Linked DNA regions of Homo sapiens. The protein of the gene in region 2 purifies or fractionates together with the protein of the main gene of each other region. This does not show direct contact. Each region holds a gene or a part of one and is shown on either strand. Other genes may lie near its edges. The genes, in order: PGM3 and PGM5.

Region 1 (2,770 bases), on a different chromosome or scaffold from region 2:
TTCATTGTTTACCTAATAATTTAATATCACTAGTTTCCTAGTGGGTCAAGCAGATGCAAAATCCAGCTTATTTTCTTCTATGTGCTCTCAAGCTTATTGCTTATTTTAAAGTAAAATCCTGAAAAAGGAAAATATTAGGTTGGTGCAAACGTAATTGCGGTTTTTGCATTGTTGAAATTTGCCGTTTTATATTGGAGTACATTCTTAAATAAATGTGGTTATGTTATACATCATTTTAAGCATATTTCTCACTTTTTTTTTGCTAATGACTTATTGCTGTTTATATTTATTTTAGACTATGGAAATGATGTTAGACAAAAATCAAATTTAGCGATTTTCTGAGTTCAAAATAGGTTATAAAGCAGCAGAGACAACACACAACATCAACAATGCATTTGGCCCAGGAACTGCTAATGAACATACAGTGCCGTGATGGCTCAAGAAGTTTTGCAAAGGAGACTAGAGCCTTGAAGATGAGGAGTGCAGTGGCCAGTCATCGGAAATTGATAATGACCAATTGAGAACATCATCGAAGCTGATCCTCTTACAACTATAAGAGAGCTGCCCAAGAACTCAATGTTGACCATTTTATGGTCGTTCGGCATTTGAAGCAAATTGAAAAGGTGAAAAAGCTCAATAAATGGGTGCCTCATGAGCTGAGTGAAAAATAAAAAAATTCGTTGTTTTGAAGTGTCATTTTCTCTATTCTATGCAACAATAATGAATCATTTCTCTATCGGATTGTGATGTGTGCCAAAAGGTGGATTTTATACGACAACTGGCGATGACCAGCTCAGTGGCTGGACTGAAAGAAGCTCCAAAGCACTTCCCAAAGCCAAACTTGCTCCAAAAAATGGTCATGGTCATTGTTTGGTGGTTTGCTGCCAGTCTGATCCACTACAGCTTTCTGAATCCAGGTGAAACCATTACATCTGATAAGTATGCTCAGCAAATCAATGAGATGCACCAAAAACTGCAATGCCTGCAGCCGGCATTGGCCACCAGAAAGGGCCCAATTCTTTTCACGACAACACTGGGCCGCACGTTGCACAACCAACGCTTCGAAAATTGAACTAATTGGGCTATGAAGTTTTGCCTCATCTGCCATATTCACCTGACCTCTTGCCAACAAACTACCACTTCTTTAGGCATCTCAGCAACGTTTTGCAGGGAAATTGCTTCCACAACTAGCAGGACACAGAAAATGCTTTCCAAGAGTTCGTCAAATTTGGAAGCATGGATTTTTATGCTACAGGAGTAAACAAACTTATTTCTCATTGGCAAAAATGTGTTGATTGTAATGGTTCCTATTTTAATTAATAAAGATTTGTGTGAACCTAGTTATAATGACTTAAAATTCATGGTCCCAAACAGCAATTACTTTTGCACCAAACTAAAAATATAAGTTAAAATGGAAGAGTCTAGGAGCAAACCAAGAAAAGATCACCTACTTCATCATCTCTGGTCAAAAACAAACCAAAAAACTTAACAGCTATCACTTAAGTTTGCTTCCTAGCAATTATTTAGCTTCCAGTCTAGATTACAGGATATATAAAACTTTCTTTCTTTCTTTCTTAACTATGACACTGGCACCAATGAGAGTCCTGTGACTGACTTTCACATTTCCACCATTACTCAATTACTGGTACCATACCACCTCTAATCCCCTAAATCAAACTGCAATTCAACAATAAAGGGCGTACAGAGATGACTTTGTCCTGAAGGAAAATGAATATCCTTGTACCCTCTATATAGCTAACTTCCAAATGTAAGAGAACTATGGGGTAACCTTTTGTTTCTATTCCTATCAAGATGAGCCTTTAAGAGAGGGACTTTTATTAAGCTCTTGACCAAGAAGAATACACTTGATTCAGAGTTTCTGATGCTCTTAATCAGAACTATATGTATTGTCTCAATATTAAATAAAGTCAAATGTTTCCATACAAATGATTTCTCCTTTGACTTCACCAGTCCACACTTGAAAAAAGACTTCCTTCCTGTTTACCTCCCTTGTACTTGTTGACATTCAGACCTGGGTTTGTGTCTCAATATTTGGCAACTTTTGCTGCCATATCATAAGCATGAAACAGCCACCCTCACCTGATGCTTGGCCATCTCCAATCCCTCCAAAATCACTGTCTTAAAGTCCTCCTCCTTGTCCTGTGGAAGGAAAGAGGAGAACTCACAGCCTTTGTTCCAGTGAAAAGTATGCTTGGCCATGAAGACCTTGTTTAAGGTGATTTGGATGGGAAGATGCCTTTCAATCAAAATAGTTTTCTTATTCTGTGGGACAAATTTTGGGCAAAAGACTGTCATATTTATTATTTAGATAAAGGAGGGGGGTCTTATAAAAATTCTCATTACTAATGAAAGGCAGGCATAACAGAAAAGGACATGTGCCTGGGGTCATATTTGCTTCTGGATTTGTCATGATTACTTGCCCAAACTCTGAGATATCAAATTGAAAGTACCAAAGTCCTACCCTGAACTCAGGACCCAGCATACATCCTCATCTCTGTCCTTTTATTAAGCCCCTACAGAAGCAACTAGGAATTTAAGTCAAGTTTTCTCATGTAAATTCCTTCCAGCAAAATCTCTTTAATCACTTTCTTCATTCCATTTTTATAGTTATGGAATTCAGTTTAAGAGCTGCTGCCTGATTAGGAGGACTCCAGAAGACTGGAAAATTTCTGAGCACTCAAAGCACACACTGCATACTAGATCTCACCAGACAACCTAGATCACTCCCAAATTGTACAATTTGATTTTG
Region 2 (4,570 bases):
AGGATATCAAAAAAGACCAAAGCCTTTGGGATCCAAGTTCAGTATTCCTGAGTCTAATTCAGGATGCCAAATCAGGAGACAAGCACATTCTCATCAATTTTCAATCATTCAAGACCAATTTTGCTTATAATTATCCAGTTCTTTTAGACCACCTTTCTCCTGAAGCCAGCCTTATGGCTATTCACTTCACTTTAGCATAAGCCCCCAAGAAGGTGAACAAAATGAGGAAAAGATTGGTTAAAGTTGGCTGTTTGAAATTCTGAAACATGTCCACCATTCCCTTCACCCATGCCCACCCCTCTTAGAAGTAGTACTTTCAGATTATTTAAGAGTCGATGCTTCTATGTGGATTTTAATTTGTCATCTGTCCTTTATAACAGCTAGTAGGTTTAATTTGACCCTATTTTAAGCATATATTGACCTATGCTAATTATCTGTTAAAATAAATTCCACTCTTAGAGTTAATAAAGTGTGTTTGTCATAGAAGACCCATTGAAGTAAGAAGCTGAGGAGTCCTTATGGTAAAGTGGGACAAGAAATAATAAGACATAATAATTTTCCCATGCAAATCAACAACCGTAGCTTCAAAAATATCCTGACCCACAACAAGTATTGGACAGGCCATGTTTCTCTCACTCCCTAAAAAATTGGCTCGGGAAGAAGTATGAGAGCTCCCATAGCTCTCCCAAGGCTCGTTATTCTCCATCACTCCACAGGAACAGCCTGTCAGAGAAGAGTGAAAGACCATTTGTCAACCTCTCTTCAACTCCCTGATTCTAGCCAAACTTCATCAATCCCAAGTGAGGAGCCAGAGATAAATCAAACCCCATATATCCAGCATCATTGTCTACTGGAGTCAAAAATCACAATTCCACTACCCACCCCAACACCACTGGCCCTGTTTCTCCCAATTGCGTTTTATTATGTTTTTAAAAAAATCCTCTTTCCCCATCCCTGCAACACCGAGAAGGAGGAATTATAGTAGATAAATATGAAGCATGGAGATCCTTTAAAAATGTTTTTAATAATAAATGAGAAAATGAAAAGGAGAGGGTTGGGAAGGAAGGAGGGAATTCAAATGCCAGGGAATTGTTCAGTTTCGCTTTTAAAGATGTTAACACTCATTTATACATCTGCAAGACACTTTCCTTAAAGAAAAGTTCTATGAGTGTGGGTCTGGTTGCATGAATAAGGATAAAATTACTTTTTTAGACGATGTTTCCCACATATAATTCAGAGACCCCTGAAATTAGGTATCCCTCTTGTAGATGTCCTTGAGATGCTGCTGGACCTGGGAAAGAGGAAACTGGGATATGGGTCTATGCCAAAAGGTGCTTCTAGTTATAGGACAGAGAGGAAAGGGGCAGAGGGAGAAAAACCTGAAGTCTGAGAATCTGGATTGCAGAAGACTACCGAGGTCGTGGGAGAAGGGAGAGAAAACAAGGATGAAAACCGAAAGGGGAAGAGGCATGAAATGTTGTCAAATGCCAAAAGGCATTTGGAGAGAAGTTGGGAATTGCATTAAGAAAACCACTGCAAATCTCATTTCAGACCATTTAGAGATATGCCCCCTGGGAACTGCGAGCTCAGGCTGTTTAGCATCAAACAAATGGATCCACTCCATCCCTACCCTAATTAAATAAATCATTCAGTAATTCCACTGGGTTAAAGAACCAAAATAATAAAAACCTTCAGGGCCTACTCTTGCCAAATATGTCAGGGATCGTGTGTGTGTGTGTGTGTGTGTGTGTGTGTGTGTGTGTGTGTGTGTGTGTGTTCTGAGACACCACTACTGTTAAATAGGCAGAGCTAAGACTTAGGGGACTGGCAGATTATTGCAAAAAGGGCACGGGGCAGAGGGACTATGTTGTGAGCCTGCGAAAGAAGTTTGTGTGGGGACTGTGGGCAGTGAATGCGTTGGGAACAATATGGAAAACTGGGAGCTGCCTTGGAATCTACAGGGCCGGGTAAGAGAATGTCCGAAAGAAAAATGAGCAGGTGCGGGATGTGCGCAGAGTCGGAGAAGAGTCCAGGGCGCCCGGAGTGGCTCCAGGAACGACGGAAACCCCTCAAGGCTTTTGGGGGCGGTGGGTACTAATAGAACCCAGTGTCCGGGGTGCACCGGGGAGGCTGCGAGCGCGGCGGGAGTGGGGCGCTGGAGGGTGAGGACGCGGGAGTGAGGTAGCAAAGCCGGGGCCGGGCAGGGGCCTCCCAACTGGGCCCGGAGGCAGCAGGGGGACAAGGGCTAGGAGAGGGCATGGCGGCGGCGCGGCGGGAAGCGAGGGGCATCCGGACACTCACCCCGTTGGCCGCGGCCATCTGCACCACGATCTCGATGGCCGTCCTGCTAAAGTACCTGCCGTCGCTGCCCACCACCATGGTGCAGCCCTGACGGTCGCGCAGGTCGATGGACGACAGCACGCTCTGGATAAAGTTGGGCAGGTAGTTGCGCTGGCCCTCGAAGAGGCCGGTGGGTCGCCGCAGACCCCCGCCGCCGGCCGGCCGCTGGTCCTCGTAGGGCGCGGTGGGCACTGTCAGCACCGGGATGGGGCTCCCCTCCATGGCGCCTCCTGGCCGGTCCTGCTGCGGCTCCCGGAGCCGGAGGGAATCTGCAGCCTGCCGGGGGCCTCCACCAGCCTGGCTGCGCGCCGGGACTCCGCCTCGCGCCCGGGCCCCCTCTCCAGCAGGTCGGCGCCCTGCGCCCTGCACCCGCCCGCCTGGGGACCGCCCGCCCCTCCTCTCCGCGCGGCCGCTCGGCTGACTCTCTCGGCAGAGATTGCTTCTGCCTTCCTGTAAAGTTTTCTCCCACCCACCTTCTCCGCTGCCAGACCGCCCGAGCTGCCCTCAGTTTCTCCCCAAGTTGGACTCACTTTCGGGGTGTCCCAAAAGCCTGATTCCAGGGCCTGCTAGCCCGACCCCGGTGACGCCTCCACCCGCGCCTGGCCCCAGCCTTCACCCGCGATCGCCGCCCTCCGGGGCACACCCTCCGCCAGAAAACAGCCGGCGGGCGGCGAGACTTTGGGCAGAGTCCGGGTTCCTCTCCGGCGCCCGGCCCGTCTCCCTGTCTCCCTGGGAGTGCGCAGCCTACACACACCAGTTTCTCTTTAGAACAAGGACGGGGAGGGATTTGGGAGGGGGCTGAAACCTTTTGCCATCAGCGAACAGCCTCAGCCAAAAATAACCCTGGAAAGGCGAGCTAAGAATGGTTATCTCCTGCCAGCGCTGAAATCGGAGGCTGGGCGCTGCGTGTGGGGTGTGTGTGTGTGTGTGTGTGTGTGTGTGTACCCTCCCACCCCGACCATTTGTTGAAGGGAATCACCACTGTCAGACTTCAATCCAACAGGACCCACTCGAGCCATCCACACTTTCCCCAGCCTCCTCCAAAACAGCACACTTTCCGGTATGGACAATTCTTTTTTTTTTTTTTTTTTTTTTTCACTTGTTTGTTTGTTGTGGTGGTTGCAACAGCAGCAACACAGACGACACATATTTCCCTATTCTTCTCGCCCTTCTCACCCTCCCTACCCAGCTCCTGCCTTAGAAATAGGCTTTCCTACACTGTATCTGTCCACACTGTCTGAACTCTTCCTTGAATTAATCGTTTTCAATAGGAGGGGGCTAAATCCCTTATTAATGCCCTACCAGGAGTGAATGAATAAAGCCAAGTTAAAGGAGACCTGGGTACCAGATACTGTGCTAGGTTCCTTTGCATGTATCCTTTCATTCTGCTGGAGCTAAAGATTTTCTGCCTCCTCTCCATAAAACGCACCCAAACTCCAAAACCAGGAAATTCTCCATAGAAAATAGGAGTGAAGAGAGAAAAGACTAACAGGATAAAACCCAAAGCAGGAAGAAAGTTCTATCTCCCATTTCTCTCAAGGAATTTTTGGACCCACCAAGGCTACTGTCCTGAAATATCCTGCTGCTTCTCCTTCCCCAAATATTGTCCACTTACTGAGAGTAAGGCTGACTTGCCGCAGGCTTATAAAGTGTTTGGTCACAGTAAGACAACTGTGAGTAATAACACACATTGTATACTGTTTTGCAATTGATTAAAGGCTTTGCATCTGTTTTTTCTTTGGAGGCTGAAGAAAAGAAGAATGGTATTCATGCAGTTCCCATTTTACAGATGAAAACAAGAGGACTTTTTCTGTGAAGTCAAGAAAGTGGTTACAATGGTACTTTCAGCCTGTCCGAATTATGTATTGCCCCTCCCCTTTTTATTAATAACATTGAAGTGTGATGGGACAACCACTGAAGCCGTCTGTTGAAACCTGCTGGGACTTTTTAGCCATTCTCTTCAACATAAAGAATGGGTGTTTTTGGAGGGGGTGAGAGGAATGGGGAAATGTTGTCAAAGAGTACAATGTTTTAGTTGAGACAGGAGGAATATATTTTGTTGAGATCTACAGCACAGCATGGTGACTGTAGTTAACAATGAAGTATTGTGTATTTCAAAATTGCTAAGACAATAAATTTCAAATGTTCTCACCACAAAAAAGATAGGTTTTGAGGTGATGAATCTATTAATTCTCTGGATTTAATTATTCCACAATGTATACATATATCA

What was found.
Region 1: the proteins of PGM5 (region 2) and PGM3 fractionate together in Homo sapiens (co-fractionation; one large-scale study listed by BioGRID). This does not show direct contact.

What each region holds. Positions count from the first base shown.
Region 1 is NC_000006.12:83,164,050-83,166,819, reverse strand, and holds the end of PGM3 (phosphoacetylglucosamine mutase), read left to right. Parts: 3' UTR 1-353; coding exon of another isoform or gene 354-433; 3' UTR 434-1,947; downstream 1,948-2,770. Other genes in the region: protein DOP1A, read right to left, coding at 2,101-2,160. UniProt on the Homo sapiens protein: Catalyzes the conversion of GlcNAc-6-P into GlcNAc-1-P during the synthesis of uridine diphosphate/UDP-GlcNAc, a sugar nucleotide critical to multiple glycosylation pathways including protein N- and O-glycosylation.
Region 2 is NC_000009.12:68,355,120-68,359,689, reverse strand, and holds the start of PGM5 (phosphoglucomutase-like protein 5), read right to left. Parts: upstream 3,080-4,570; 5' UTR 2,563-3,079; coding exon 2,302-2,562; intron 2,088-2,301; exon of another isoform or gene 1,824-2,087; intron 1-1,823. UniProt on the Homo sapiens protein: Component of adherens-type cell-cell and cell-matrix junctions. Has no phosphoglucomutase activity in vitro.